Linked DNA regions of Homo sapiens. The protein of the gene in region 4 purifies or fractionates together with the protein of the main gene of each other region. This does not show direct contact. Each region holds a gene or a part of one and is shown on either strand. Other genes may lie near its edges.

Region 1 (3,500 bases), on a different chromosome or scaffold from region 4:
CGGGTACACACACACACACACACACACACCCAAACGGGTGCACAACCCACCCACACATGGGCACAATCACCCCCACACACATGGGCACAGTCACCCGCCTGCACATTCGGGCACCGTCACCCCCCGCAAACGGGCACCGTCACACCCCGCAAACGGGCACACTCACCCCCCTGCACACTCGGGCACAGTCATCCCCCGCACACATGGGCACAGTCACAGGTTTTAAAGGCTTTTCTCTTTTTCTGCGGCTTCTTCTCAGCAACTTCTCAATGAGGAGAATTTACGGAAGCAGGAGGAGTCCGTGCAGAAGCAGGAAGCCATGCGGCGAGGTAGGCTGTCTGCTCTCCTGGCTGGGGCGGAGGTGGCGGGGGCTGCTTGTGGACCCGGCGTGCACTCTGAGCCTGAGTTCTGCCGCCCGGCCCCTCATAGCTACCAGTGCAGTGGGCGAGGCCTGCTGGGGCTCCGCGGGGTGGGGCTGCCTCTCGGAAGACACCTCTGTCTGCGAGTGGACGCCAGGATCTGTTCAGGGAGGGCAGGAGCTGCTTCACTTCATGGGAAGTACAGGGGCCTTTTTTTTTTTTTTGAGACGGAGTCTCGCTCTGTCACCCAGGCAGGAGTGCAATAGCACGATCTCAGCTCACTGCAACCTCTGCCTCCCAGGTTTAAGCAATTCTCCTGCCTCAGCCTCCCGAGTAGCTGGGATTATAGGCTCCCGCCACCACGCCCAGCTAATTTTTTTGTATCTTCAGTAGAGAAAGGGTTTCACTGTGTTGGCCAGGCTGGTCTTGAACTTCTTGATCTCATTATCCGCCTGCCTTGGCCTTCCACAGTGCTGGGATTACAGGCGTGAGCCTCTGCGTTCTGCCTAGAACATGGGTCTTTACTGTCCTGGTTTCAGTGGGGATCACAGGTATTTGGTGCCATGTGGCATTTGTTGGCGAGTGCTCCAGGCAAACGTCTGTCACCACTCTTCACCGTGGGTGGGCTTGTGGCGAGGTGTGTGCGTTTAATGTTCAGTAGCCAGGCACGTGGCACGTCACGCGTGTCTGAGTTCTGACAGCTGTGTTTCTGTGTGAGGGGGGCTTCCTTCAGAACTCCGCGTTCTGGTTTTTTGCTTCAAAGAGCTCGTCCTGAGAAGTTGCCTAGGCCTCTGGGTCGGATTTCTGCCCTAATCCATGGGCAGGGCCGGCCTGTGGCGCTGTCCCTACCAAGGTCTGTGTGTGTCTGTGGCATGGACCTGTCCGTGGCCTTAGCCTATTGGCGGCGTGGGCCTGTCTGTGGCGTGGGCCTGTCCGTGGCCTTAGCCTGTCAGCAGTGTGGGCCTGTCCATGGCGTGGGCCGGTCCGTGGCATGGGCCTGTCTGTGGCGTTGGTCTGTCCGTGGCGTGGGCCGGTCCGTGGCGTGGGCCGGTCCACAGTGTGGGTGGAGGTGGACGCGCTGCACTGCATGGTGCTGAGCTGCCCTGCCTCTCTGGGGCAGCCACCGTGGAGCGGGAGATGGAGCTGCGGCACAAGAATGAGATGCTGCGAGTGGAGGCCGAGGCCCGGGCGCGCGCCAAGGCCGAGCGGGAGAATGCAGACATCATCCGCGAGCAGATCCGCCTGAAGGCGGCCGAGCACCGTCAGACCGTCTTGGAGTCCATCAGGTGAGCACTGCCGAGGCCCGGGCCGGCCACAGATGGAGCCCCGCAGGTGTGAGTCGCTGGTCCCAGGGCGCTCTCCAGCTCTTCCAGGCCTTGCCGCCGTAGGCTGACTCCTTGGTGGGGGCACTGCCCCTCTGTCCTGGCAAGGCCGTGCCGCCATGTCAGGGCCTCACCCTCAACCTGCTCTCGCTGCGTGGCACGGATCTTCGTGTCCTTCCTGGTCACACCACTGCTTTCCCCGCAGGACGGCTGGCACCTTGTTTGGGGAAGGATTCCGTGCCTTTGTGACAGACTGGGACAAAGTGACAGCCACGGTAAACATACTCATAAAACAGGGCTGGCAGGTGGCTGAGGGGCAGCATGTGGGGGCCTCCTGGAGCCCCAGGTCCTGTCCCTGCCGGCTCTGCACAGCCCTGTAGCTCTCCCAGCAGGGAGGAAGCCCACGTTGTACCTGCTGGCCTCGGCTTCTCCTCCCTTCTCAAGCTGGGAGAAGAAAACGCAGTTGCCAGCCTGGGCCACACAGTGAGACCCCATCTCTACAAAAAATCAAATATTAGCTGGGTGTGGTGGCAGCCCCTGTGGTCCCACTACTCAAGAGGCTGAGGTAGGAGGATCACTTAAGCCCAGGGAGGTTGCAGCTGCACTGAGCTGAGATCGCAGCACTGCACTCCATCCTGGGCGACAAAGTCCTTGTCTCAAGAAAAAAATTGTCGATAGTCGTGGCTCACACCTGTAATCCCAGCACTTTGGGAGGCAGAGGCAGAGGCGGGCGGATCACGATATCGGGATCGAGACCATCCTGGCTAACACGGTGAAACCCCGTCTCTACTAAAAAAATACAAAAAATTAGCCGGGCGCAGTGGCGGGCGCCTATAGTCCCAGCTACTCAAGAGGCTGAGGCAGGAGAATCACCTGAACCCGGGAGGCGGAGCTTGCAGTGAGTCGAGATCACGCTACTGCACTCCAGCCTGGGCCACATAGTGAGGCTTCTTCTCAAAAAAAAAAAAAAAAAAAAAAAAAAAAAAACCAGAAGGCAACCCTGACTCCATTTTGCAAAAACCTTCTTTATTCCTTATAAAACCCTGAGAGTTTGAAGTTCACAGATTCTTCTCTCGTTTAAAGCCTCACTCTTTTGTGCCCAGCCTCCGGCCTGCTGTGGTGGCGCCCCACGTCCCACATGGCTGTGTCCTCCGTCCCCACCCCGCCCAGCACACGGTAGGTGCCCGGCACTGAGTGGGCACTTGCTCTGCCGTGGTGCCGGCGCCCAGAGCTGTGACTGCAGCGCCTGCCGGTGGCCTGGTCAGTGTGACGGTGAATGTTGCAGGTGGTGTTGCCACCATGTTGGTGAGACCGTGTCACGTGAGGACATGACGGAGCTGCTTAATGCGCCGATGACTTTTGTTTGTTTGTTTTTAGAGACAGGGTCTTGCTCTGTGGTCAGACTGGAGTGCAATGGTGCCATCTCGGCTCACTGCAACCTCCACCTCCCCAGTTCAAGCAGTTCTCCTGCCTCAGCCTCCCAAGTGACTGGGATTACAGGCTCACGTCACCACACTCAGCTAATATAGGCCTGTGCCACCAGGCCCGGCCAATTTTTGTATTTTTAGTAGAGATGGGTTTTCACCATGTTGGCCAGGCTGGTCACGAACTTCTGACCTTAAGTGATCCAGCCGTCTTGGCCTCCCAAAGTGCTGGGATTACACGGGTGAGCCACCGGGCCTGGCCTAATTCATTTTTTGTTTGTTTGTTTTTTGAGACAGAGTTTTGCTCTTGTTGCATAGGCTGGAGTGTAGTGGCGCGGGTCCAGCTCATTGCAACCTTTGCCTTCCGGGTTCAAGAGATTCTCCTGCCTCAGCCT
Region 2 (3,500 bases), on a different chromosome or scaffold from region 4:
TGAAGTAAAAGGAAAAAAACATACTGTAAAAAGTACTATAAAAGTCAGTATAGTGGCTACCCTTAAGCTGTTGGAAAGGAGTTGTGATCGGGAAGGGCTGGGGAGGCCCTTGTGGGCTATCTTGACTGGGATGGTGGTTGTACAGATGTTTGTAAAGAGTAACCTGGACATTTTTGTTTCAATTTTTGGTTTTCTTTATCTGTTACATTTTACAGTAAGAAGTTTTTGGAAATCTAATAATGTATTAAAGGGTTTAGGATGAAAAATGGCAGTCCCCTACCTCCCCACTCCTTAATCCCTAGTCCATCTCCTAAGAGCAGTTGTTCAACTCTTCCGCTGGGTTCCTTGGTGCTTCATTTCCTTTTTGGGAATAAAATGGTATTTCTATATCTTGTCAATTTTAGTATTTCCAGCTGACTTGCTCCTCTAGTAGATGATAACTAAGCTATTCACATTATCACCCCCATTTCTGTCCCCATTGTGCCCCGATGTTACATCACACACTATGATTAAATTGGACGTCAGTGCTTAAATTGTTATGACCACGCACACATTCTCTGCTGAACCAGTAGTGCTCTGCAGTGTTTATTTCATCCTCAAGGTAATACAGTAATTGCTTGTTTGTTAATTTGACTATTTGGTTTTTTAAAAAACGTAATCAATCTGGAACATTACAGAAAGTATGTGGAATAGTATAATGAACCCCTGTCACCCGGCGTTGTCAATGGCCAGTGTTGCCCCATGTATGGTTCCATCACTGGACCCTTTCCCATCCTTTTGTTATTTAATAATGTAATACTTGTTTTTAAAATCTGAATTTAACAAAATAGAAAGCCAAGTTCATTTCTTAAAGTCGAACAGTAAGAAATTTTTTCTAATGATTTTGATAATGTGTTTAAATTTTACTTGTGGAAATAAATTATTAAAAATTCAAATACATGTGGATAATCTGAAGTGTGTAATAATTGGTCAAAATAATAGAACAGGCCAGGTGCAGTGGCTCACGCCTGTAATCCCAGCACTTTGGGAGGCCAGGCGAGAGGATCTCTTGAATCCAGGAGTCTGAGACCAGCCTGGACAACATAGTGAGACCTTTTCTCTACAAAAATTAAAAATATTAGCAGGGCATGGCAGTGTGCAACTGTAGTCCCAGCTACTAAGGAGGCTGAGACTTGAGCCTGAGAGGTCTGCTACAGTTAGGCTGTGATTGTGCCACTGGTCTCCAGCCTGGACAATAGAGTAAGACTCTGTTTCAAAAAAAAAAAAGGAACAACTTAACCATTCAAGATAGTTATTTTAATTATTTTAATGTAGATTTTTCATTGTTTAGTAATCTTAAAATATCAGATGTTATTAAATATTTAATAATGAACCTCATCTGCATATTTGATAGTCTTAAACTTTCACAGGAAATTATTTTAGGATATTATCTTATAAAGTCTTATTTTATGAAACTTGGATCCAAGTACATTGTGTGTTTTCAACTCTTTGCTTTCTGTTTACTTTTGGTAGGATTTAGCCTTGTGGACTGGGTCTTGAAAAAATATTTTTTAAATGGTAGAGGCTAAAATATGCCCCAAATAAGGACATAAGTAAAAATTTGAAAAACAGTCCATATTATGATATCTCACACAATTTAATGGTTTTAGTCCATTCCATATGTTTAATGCTATAATGTAAACAATTTAAAATCATTTCTCTTCTGCATCTCTTTTTTTTTTTTTTGTTAGAGACAAGGTCTTGCTGTGTTGCCCAGGCCGTCTTCTGTGTTTCTTAGAGTAGTATGCATGTTAGATTTAGGCAGTAAGGTAAGTTAGTAGAAAAAGTAGAACCCTGTTGTTTTGTGGATTTAAAAATAGTGGCACATTAGCTGTATTCCGAAACCTAATGACCTATGGTAAAGGTCTTATTTAATATCCTTACCTTGTATGACATGTGACACTTCTTTTTCTTAACACTAGCATTACTACTGAAGTCTAGTAGACCTCACTCAGTACAGTCACTTAAAGTAGTAGTGTAAGTTTACCCATTAAATACCATGAATGATAGTATCTGTTTAGCATCAAATAGTTTTCTTGCTTTGTTTTAAAATACTAAGTTTTTTCACATTCATTTGACAAAAAATTATGAGAGAGAATGGCCATTGAAAACATATTGCTGACATTTTGTCATGTTATTAAAATAAAACAAAAATTAGCCTTAGGTGTTTCTTAGTACTCTGTAATAGTGAACAAAATATTAAAATCAAGTTCTTGAAAATTGTGGAATAAGCAGAATGATGAGAGGTTGAAGCAAAAATGTATTAAATCAGTGAAGAGGTTACAGTATGTTACGTATTTGCATATAAGTGTTTGCCTAGTTTATCTTAAAGTTGATTGTAGGAAGAAAGGTACGTTTCTTAATGCTGTTAAATAGGAAAACTGAAGGATTGGAAATAGCTAAAAAATTTTAGTTAATATCCTCAACTGTAATCTCGTTGCCCTTTAAGGTGATGATGGAATTTGTAATTAAGTAATCAAGTATCCATAAGGTGCTTCCTCAGCAGACAGAAAGAAAAGTAAAAGCTGGCGGGGCGCGGTGGCTCACGCCTGTAATCCCAGCACTTTGGGAGACGGAGGCAGGCAGATCACGAGGTCAGGAGTTTGAGACCAGCCTGGCCAATATGGTGAAACACTGTCTCTACTAAAAATACAAAAATTAGCCGGGTGTGGTGGTGCGCGCCTGTTGTCCCAGCTACTCAGGCTGAGGCAGAAGAATTGCTTGAACCTGGGAGGTGGAGGTTGCAGTGAGCCGAGATCGTGCCACTGCACTCCAGCCTGGGCAACAGAGCAAGACTCCATCTCAAAAAAGAAAAGAAAAGAAAAAGCCTAGGTGCAAATTAGATTTTCTATAAATAAACTGCTATATAGTCATTGTAAGGAAGGCATGGCATGGCCATCTTGAGTACCTACATTTTTTGAGTGCTTAACTATGTATCAGGCATTGTTTTAGGTCCTTTACATCTATTTATTTACTGTTCTTCACAAATACCCTGTGAAATAAGTAGATACTGGTGGGAAAGTTAATTAACTGTATAATCTTGAGCAGGTGGTGAAGCTGGGATTCTTACCTTAGACCTTTCACTTTTCCTAATATAATTTTATTTCAAAACTTAATCTCCTTTTAGTTCAGGTGAAGGCGTTTGATGTTGAACTGCAACTCCTGTTTATAACAAGGTTTATTTGTAATGCCTAGTAGATACTTTTTATTTTGAAGTAATTAAATATAATTTGGAGATTTGTTGAATTTTCAGCTAATGCCATTCTTTTTTTTTTCCTTTTTCTTTTTTTTGTTTTTTTTTTTTGAGACGGGGTCTTGCTCTGTCATCCTGGCTGGAGTGCAATGGCGTGATCATGGCTCACTGCAGCCTCAACCTCCCAGGCTCAAGCGATCCTCCTGCCCCAGCCTCCTGAGTAGCTGGGACTACAGGCACAGGCCACCACGCCCGGCTAGTTTTTAAA
Region 3 (4,216 bases), on a different chromosome or scaffold from region 4:
ACATTATCAACACTCAACAAATTCTACACAGCAAAACATGATAGAACCCTAAGCAGACTGCAGAATTTCGAATTGGACCTTGTGTTTGGAGTAGGGGGAGTGGAGGACAACAGTGCATTTGCGGAGGTCCGCAGCCTGCATAGACGGCAAATAAGAGGACGAGTAGGAAGAAATATTTGAATTTCTGGCCCTGCTTTATTGCACAATCTGAGGCAACACTTCATACCACGATGCCAGTAGCCCAGTAGCTCTGGAGTGATATCAGGACAGCAGGAAAGACGGGGTTGATTGAGGGAGTATGACTCCGGAGTCTATGCTGCTAACCACCTAAAACCACCACAGTGACGACTGGTCTTAGTTGATCCTCTGCTACAAGTTAATAATTCTTTATATTAAATTTTCTTGCTCAGAAAAAAAGAGAAAAATTATTATAATAGAATATAAAGAATAGACCAGAAATAGAATAAGCAGTGAACCACACAGCGTAAGGTAGGTATTCTTTCATGAAATGTTATATATGTATTCAATATACACTTGGCAGACATTTAAAACACATATTTTTACTAGGAATGAGGGTTAGAAAACCAGACATCACTGCATTGGACTATAAAATATCAGCTAAACTCAAAACAGCAGGACCTCTCCACACCCCGATGCTCAGCCTCTTTCTTGTAGAAAATATACCCTTTAGGACAAAAAGTTTGCCAAGTCTACTTGTGGCTTGGGAAGAGCCCCGTTGGGAAGGTGTGCGTCTTCTCCCATAGGTCATTACAATCACGGGTGTTGCAGCTCCCCAGGGACCATCTGGCCTGGGAACCGCACCCATGCTCTGCAAGGGATGCAGCTGGGCAAATGATCAGAGGTGACGGAAACTGAGCATCTCCCACCCATCACTTCATCAAAGAGACAAAAGCCAGGAGGAAGACCCTCCTGAGTGAGGACCGAGGGTCCACCCACCCCTCACAAAGGGGCCACAGAATCCAGCTGAGCCCCTCTTGTCAGCCCTGGAAGACCCTGGCAATGTTGTCACCCCTACCACAACCCTCCCCTCACTGCCACCTTGGAAGACTCCGAGTCAAGAGACCTGGTTTAAGGGGAGAAGACATCCTCAGCACAAAACAGGGGTCCAGGCTTTTCCAGGCATCAAGGTCGAGACACTGAGGGATGACTGAAAGACCCCACCCCCACCCCCACCACGACCCACAGCCCCAAGATCCCCATCCCAGTTCCCACCTCCACGCCCCTCCCCACACTCATCTTCACCACCACCCCTGCCCCAACCCCATCCTCACCCGTACCCCACCCCACCCGGACTCCCACCCTCACTCCCACCCCAACTCCCACCCCAGTTCCGGCAGAATCCACTCCGCCCCTGCTGTCAACCCAGGGAAGCCCCGGGGACCGGATGTGACGCCACTAACTTACGCCTCGGGGATCAGAGAGAAGCGAGGTTCTCGTTCTGAGGGACAGGCTTGAGATCGGCTGAAGAGAGCGGGCCCAGGCTCTGTGAGGAGGCAAGGTGAGAGGCTGAGGGAGGACTGAGGACGCCCCCAACCCAGATAGAAAGCCCTAAATAATACAGCGCTGCCTCTGCTGCCAGCTCTGGACCACCTGAGGGCAGACTTCTCAGGCTGGGCTGTCACCCCCCCCCCACCCCCGCCCCCACTCTCTCCCGCCGCTTAAGCCGCAGGGGACTCTGGGAGTCAGAGCTTGGTGTGACCAGGGCCCGGCTGGTTCGGCGGGAGCCGCGCCTAGGTTCTGCCAGCATCAATGTCGGGACGCTCAGGGAGGGCTCTGCCCCTGATGTCGGCCCTGGGAAGCCCTGGTCATGGCGACCAGGAACGCAAATTCTGACGTCGGCATCTGAGGCTGACGTAGGGAAGGGGATATTGGTACCAAGAATGCGGCTTCAGGGGAGCAGAGGGAAGGCCCGGGCCCTGCTGGGAAATGAGGGAGGCATGAAGGGATCCCAGGACAGGGTGCCCACCCCACCTCTGTCTCAGACCGAGATGTCTCTTCACTCGGCCTGAGGAATCCAAGGGACGGTGACTCAGGTCTGCGGCGGGGCGTGGTAGAGGAGAACAACCCAGCCAAGAGTCAAGGGGAGGAAGAAGAGAAAGGACTCAAGGGACCTTGGAGTCCAGATCAGTGGGGACCTCAGCCCTGGGTGGTTTCAGGCACGGTGGCCCATGTGATGTGTCTTTGCTGTGCCTTTGGGGTGTCAATGAGGAGAGGGCTATGGTCTGAGGAGTGGAGCCTCAGGTCAGCAGAGGGAGGAGTCCCAGAGCCCTGAGGGAGGACTCAGCAGATCCCCGCATCTCAGAACTAGGAAATCTGTCCCTCTTATCAGCTCTGGAACCCCAGGCAGGACGGTGAGGAAGAGAAGTGGCCCCCACTTTCTCACCGGGGATCCCAGGGAGATGGTGGCTTTGGCGTGCAAGACCCATACACGATTCAGCAGGAGGGAAAGGGCTGGGCCCTGTCGGGAGTAAATCTGAATACCTGGAGGACACCCAAATAAAGGAAGTCCCCGTCTTGTCCCCCTCCCCTGCCCACCACCCCCCCCCCCCCCCCCGCCAAATGTCTGCTCCTTCTGTCAGCTTTGGGAATCCCATGCAGGTGTGATCGTGTGGTGCCCCTCCCCACTTCTGCCTGCCGGGTCTCAGGGAGGTGAGGACCTTGGTCTGAGGGTTGCTAAGAAGTTATTACAGGGTTCCACACTTGGTCAACAGAGGGAGGAGTCCCAGAATCTGCAGGACCCAAGGGGTGCCCCCTTAGTGAGGACTGGAGGTACCTGCAGCCCAGAAAGAAGGGATGTCACAGAGTCTGGCTGTCCCCTGTTCTTAGCTCTGAGGGGACCTGATCAGGATTGGCACTAAGTGGCAAGCTCAATTTTACCACAGGCAGGAAGATGAGGAACCCTCAGGGAAATGGAGTTTTGGTGTAAAGGGGAGATATCAGCCCTGGACACCCCACAGGGATGACAGGATGTGGCTCCTTCTTACTTTTGTTTTGGAATCTCAGGGAGGTGAGAACCTTGCTCTCAGAGGGTGACTCAAGTCAACACAGGGAACCCCTCTTTTCTACAGACACAGTGGGTCGCAGGATCTGACAAGAGTCCAGGTAAGGAACCTGAGGGAAATCTGAGGGTACCCCCAGCCCATAACACAGATGGGGTCCCCACAGAAATCTGCCATGACCCTACTGTCACTCTGGAGAACCCAGTCAGGGCTGTCCGCTGAGTCTCCCTGTCTTATACAAGGATCACTGGTCTCTGGGAGGGAGAGGTGTTGGTCTAAGGGAGCTGCACTCGGGTCAGCAGAGGGAGGGTCCCAGACCCTGCCAGGAGTCAAGGTGAGGACTGAGGGGACACCATTCTCCAAACGCACAGGACTCAGCCCCACCCTACCCCTTCTGTCAGCCACGGGAATTCATGGGGAACTGGGGGTAGATGGACTCCCCTCACTTCCTCTTTCCATGTCTCCTGGAGGTAGGACCTTGGTTTAAGGAAGTGGCCTCAGATCAACAAAGGGAGGGTCCCAGGTCGTATCAGGCATCAAGAAGAGGACCAAGCAGGCTCCTCACCCCAGTACACATGGACCCAGCTGAATATGGCCACCTCTTGCTGTCTTTTCTGGGAGGACCTCTGCAGTTGTGGCCAGATGTGGGTCCCCTCATGTCTTCTATTTCGTATCAGGGATGTAAGCTTTTGATCTGAGAGTTTCTTAGACCAGCAAAGGAGCAGGGTCTAGGCTTTTCCAGGAGAAAGGTGAGAGCCCCACGTGAGCACAGAGGCTCCCCACCCCAGGGTAGTGGGGAACTCACAGAGTCCAGCCCACCCTCCTGACAACACTGGGAGGCTGGGGCTGTGCTTGCAGCCTGAACCCTGAGGGCCCCTCAATTCCTCTTTCAGGAGCTCCAGGGACTGTGAGGTGAGGCCTTGGTCTAAGGCAGTGTTTTCAGGTCACAGAGCAGAAAGGGCCCAGACAGTGCCAGGAGTCAAGGTGAGGTGCATGCCCTGAATGTGTACCAAGGGCCCCACCTGCTCCAGGACAAAGTGGACCCCACTGCATCAGCTCCACCTACCCTACTGTCAGTCCTGGAGCCTTGGCCTCTGCCGGCTGCATCCTGAGGAGCCATCTCTCACTTCCTTCTTCAGGTTCTCAGGGGACAGGGAGAGCAAGAGGTCAAGAGCTGTGGGACACCACAGAGCAGC
Region 4 (3,500 bases):
CACTGAAAAGTACTTGGTAAACACTTCCGCTCCCCCTTTCCCCAATCCTTTTCAAGTTCCCATTATGGACTAAGGTTAGAGTTCTCTTTACAGCATTTATACTTTTTCTCTTCTCTTACCTACGCATGCCTAAGGATAGGTGTCTGTAAACGTGACAGAGAGAGACCTTTGTTTACAAAGTCATCTTCAAGCTCTCTCTGCATCTTTCTGCTCCCAGATCCCTCACTGGCAAGTCAGGGACTGAGCAGCATTTGTAGCAACGGACCTATTATGTATCATCTATACATTATCATCTGTGTCCACTGGATGGACTTGTTATGGATCTCAGAATTTTGGATCTAGCAGACCTCTTCAAGACCATCTAATGCTGGTCCAGAAAGGTTCAGTGGCCAGTCCGAAGGGCTTGTTAATGTTGGCCACATAGAATTTTATGTTCTCTATACAGAGAACTCTCAACTTGTCCCTGGAATCGGTTGTCTTGGCATATTCTGGTGCCCATTTGCTGTGCTACCTGTTTCCCAGCGTTGAGTATATCTATTCACTTGGGTTGCCTTGTCAGTTACATGGCCTAGCAGGAAGAAGAAACAGTCTCTCCTCTGTGTCCTAAAACGACGTGTTGTTCCATCCTGTTTTATTTCACCTTTTCTAAGAAATAGATGAAAGTATTATTTTTTAATTATGAAACCGAACATATGTATGGGAGTGTATATAAGGTGCGCATACAGTTTCAAGAGTAACCGAGAATGCCCGCGCATCCACCTCTCAGCTCAAGAAAGAGAGTGTGACTGTTGAAGGCCTCCCGGTCATGAATGAATTCTTGTTTTTTAAACATGGCAGCGTCCAGAATAAAACACAAAAGCCGCCTTTATTGCCCTCTTTCTTCTCCAAGGTAATTGTTGTTAATGTTTCAAGTACGTGCTTCCAGAATTTGATCTTTAAAATTGTTTGGTTTTATTTAAACAGGAAGTACGCACATTCAAAATGGGCCTCAAAAGCAGAGTAGCCTAGAGGGCGAAGCGCACCCCTCTTCCCAGCAGCCTTGTCAGCCTCCCTCATTGCGACTGCTTAAATGCTGAGCGTTCTCTGGGGGCCGCCCACACACGCACAGCCTAAATGCATGTCCCCCAGCACACACCTGTGCGCACGGCTGCCAGTCAGCCTGTGTAGTTCTGCCCCGGGTCCCACTGTATGGATGTACCATAATTGCTTTAACTAGCACTCAGTTGAAGAGCTAGTTAATCGTGTCACCTACGTCATTCCAGTTCATGACAGCTAAAATGTGTCTGATTTTTCCTGTCAGTCTAATTATCTTTCCTTAATAGGTAATGTCTTTTTCTCTCAGGCTGCTTTTAGGACCTCTTGGTCTTTGTGTTTCCCCATTTTTTAAATTATACTCTTAGATATGTATTTTGTGTTTGATTCGTGTGCATTGAGTCGGCATGCATGTCTTTCATCAGTTCGGGAAACATCAGCTGTTAGCTGTCCGCACTCTGTTTTTCTCCTTCCGGAACTTGGGGCGTGTGGTGCACCACCCCTTCTGTCCCTCATGTCTCTTATACCCCCATTCGCAGTTTTCATATTTATCTCTTTGTGCTCCATTCTTGGTAATTTCTTCACATTTTTCTTCTGATTCACGCATTCTCTGATCTGCTTCCAGCCTATCTCCCAAATTTAATTTCAGGGACTATACTTTCATGCTTTTGTATTGAAAGCAGGAGTCTCCATACTCCGCTCCCTGCCTAGGGTGGCCCTTCAGTGTGTTTGATGAAACCACGGAGCTGAGCCTGGCGCTTGCCAGCAGCCTCCCCTCCCCTGAAGTCGCAGCTCACCCTCTCCTGTCTGGTTTTCAGCTCAGGTCCTGGGGAAGTCACTTCCTACGTGAGCTCAGCAGTGCCCTTAAAAGGATTTTATCCAGCATTTTTAAGCGTTTTACAGTGGAACTGTCAACATGTTGTCTGAAACAGAAGCCTCTTTTGCAACTAAGAGCAGTGACTGGCCTTGCGTGTATGTGGACTCTTGTGTAGCTACCTCCTCGAAGTGGAATTGCCGGCTCAGAAGTGAGGTGCATGTGGTATTTGGTTGGATATTGCCAAGTCACTCCCCAGAGAAGGATTTCTGCTCGCCTCAGCTGTCTAGGAGTACCTACCTGTCCATGTCTCCCTGCCACACAGTGCCTCGTAGGGCATGTTACCAAACTTTACCTTTGCTGGGTAGATTGGTGACAAGTGGCATTGCATTGTAGTTTTACTGTGTAATTTATCTGATTACCAGCAAACTTAAACATCTTACACATGTTTAAAAGCCATTAGTATTTTTCTGTGAATTGCTTTTTCTTATCTTTTCTGTCGATTTAATAATGGGTTGTCAGTCTTTACTAATTTGAAGGCATTTATTATAAGACATTAGCCCTTTTTGTTGCAAACATTTTCCTCAGTTTATCATTGGACTGACTTTCTGATTGTTCCCCCCAATAGGAAAAAGTTAAACCCTTTTTTCACCTTCCATATTTTGTTATGTTTAGAAAGGTCTTCCTCCTTTGAATATGTTTTATAGTTTATGTTTAACTCTTTGCGCTCTCTGTAATTTGTGTAATATATGTGATTGATAGAGCTCCAAGTTGAGAAAATTATTATAGAGTATTTTGCCTCTAACTGCTGTTACAAATGGGACATTTTCTTTGATTCTATTTATTTTTAAACTAGATTTTAGCATATAAATTTATATTTGACTCTGTGTTACTGAATTCTCTGGGACTGTCCCTTCTCACTGATAAGAAGTCTACCCACTTCTTTCCGATTTTTTTTAACCTTTCATTTTTTCCTTTTGTCTAATTGTGTCTGGTTTTTAAAAAGCGATGTGAAGTAATGGTGGTGCCAGTGCCTCACTGTTTCTAAAGACCACATCTGGAATGGCTGTGACGTTTCATCCCGTTGCTTTCGGCTTCCATGGACGTGACTGCCTGGTTTTTCGTTGATTCCCCTTGTCTGTGGCATCTTGCTGTGGAGTCTGTTCCTGATGTTTCACTCGGATATGTAGTTTTCTTTGATCATGCTCTCAGGGTTAGGCTTTGGTAATAGAATGCTGGCTTCATGGAGAATTTGGAAGCTTTCCTCCTTTTCCTAGGCTGTGGAACAGTTAACTTAGCCCTGGAGGCAGCTGGTCCTTAACAGGTCTGGCCAAAGTCACTTGTTCTTTTTTTGCAGGGATTGTTGCCCCTTGCTGGCTTCCTCAGGCTGCTATTTGTTATTTTATCTACTTGGATTTTCTGTCTCCTGGGGATTCGTTTTGATAATTCTTATTTTCCCAGAAAGCCATTTACTCATCTAAGTTTTCAGATTTGGAGATTTTAAAAATTCAAGAAATAGAAATAATTTCTGAATAGATTATAGTGACTAAAGAAACTATTAAAAAAAAAAAAAAACAGGCTGGGTGCAATGGCACATGCCTGTAATCCCGGCACTTTAGGAGGCTGAGGTGGGTAGATCCCTTGGCCCAGGAGT

Evidence for each region.
Region 1: the proteins of FBXW8 (region 4) and ATAD3A purify together in Homo sapiens (affinity purification with mass spectrometry, with the first as the bait; one large-scale study listed by BioGRID). This does not show direct contact.
Region 2: the proteins of FBXW8 (region 4) and PPP2R2A purify together in Homo sapiens (affinity purification with mass spectrometry, with the first as the bait; one large-scale study listed by BioGRID). This does not show direct contact.
Region 3: the proteins of FBXW8 (region 4) and MAGEA10 purify together in Homo sapiens (affinity purification with mass spectrometry, with the first as the bait; one large-scale study listed by BioGRID). This does not show direct contact.

What each region holds. Positions count from the first base shown.
Region 1 is NC_000001.11:1,518,662-1,522,161, forward strand, and holds part of ATAD3A (ATPase family AAA domain-containing protein 3A), read left to right. Parts: intron 1-259; coding exon 260-329; intron 330-1,479; coding exon 1,480-1,645; intron 1,646-1,886; coding exon 1,887-1,956; intron 1,957-3,500. UniProt on the Homo sapiens protein: Essential for mitochondrial network organization, mitochondrial metabolism and cell growth at organism and cellular level. May play an important role in mitochondrial protein synthesis. May also participate in mitochondrial DNA replication.
Region 2 is NC_000008.11:26,298,008-26,301,507, forward strand, and holds part of PPP2R2A (serine/threonine-protein phosphatase 2A 55 kDa regulatory subunit B alpha isoform), read left to right. Parts: intron 1-3,500. UniProt on the Homo sapiens protein: Substrate-recognition subunit of protein phosphatase 2A (PP2A) that plays a key role in cell cycle by controlling mitosis entry and exit. Involved in chromosome clustering during late mitosis by mediating dephosphorylation of MKI67.
Region 3 is NC_000023.11:152,135,778-152,139,993, reverse strand, and holds the start of MAGEA10 (melanoma-associated antigen 10), read left to right. Parts: upstream 1-1,416; 5' UTR 1,417-1,519; intron 1,520-3,024; 5' UTR 3,025-3,123; intron 3,124-3,913; exon of another isoform or gene 3,914-4,004; intron 4,005-4,159; 5' UTR 4,160-4,216. UniProt on the Homo sapiens protein: Not known, though may play a role in embryonal development and tumor transformation or aspects of tumor progression.
Region 4 is NC_000012.12:117,018,950-117,022,449, forward strand, and holds part of FBXW8 (F-box/WD repeat-containing protein 8), read left to right. Parts: intron 1-3,500. UniProt on the Homo sapiens protein: Substrate-recognition component of the Cul7-RING(FBXW8) ubiquitin ligase complex, which mediates the ubiquitination and subsequent proteasomal degradation of target proteins.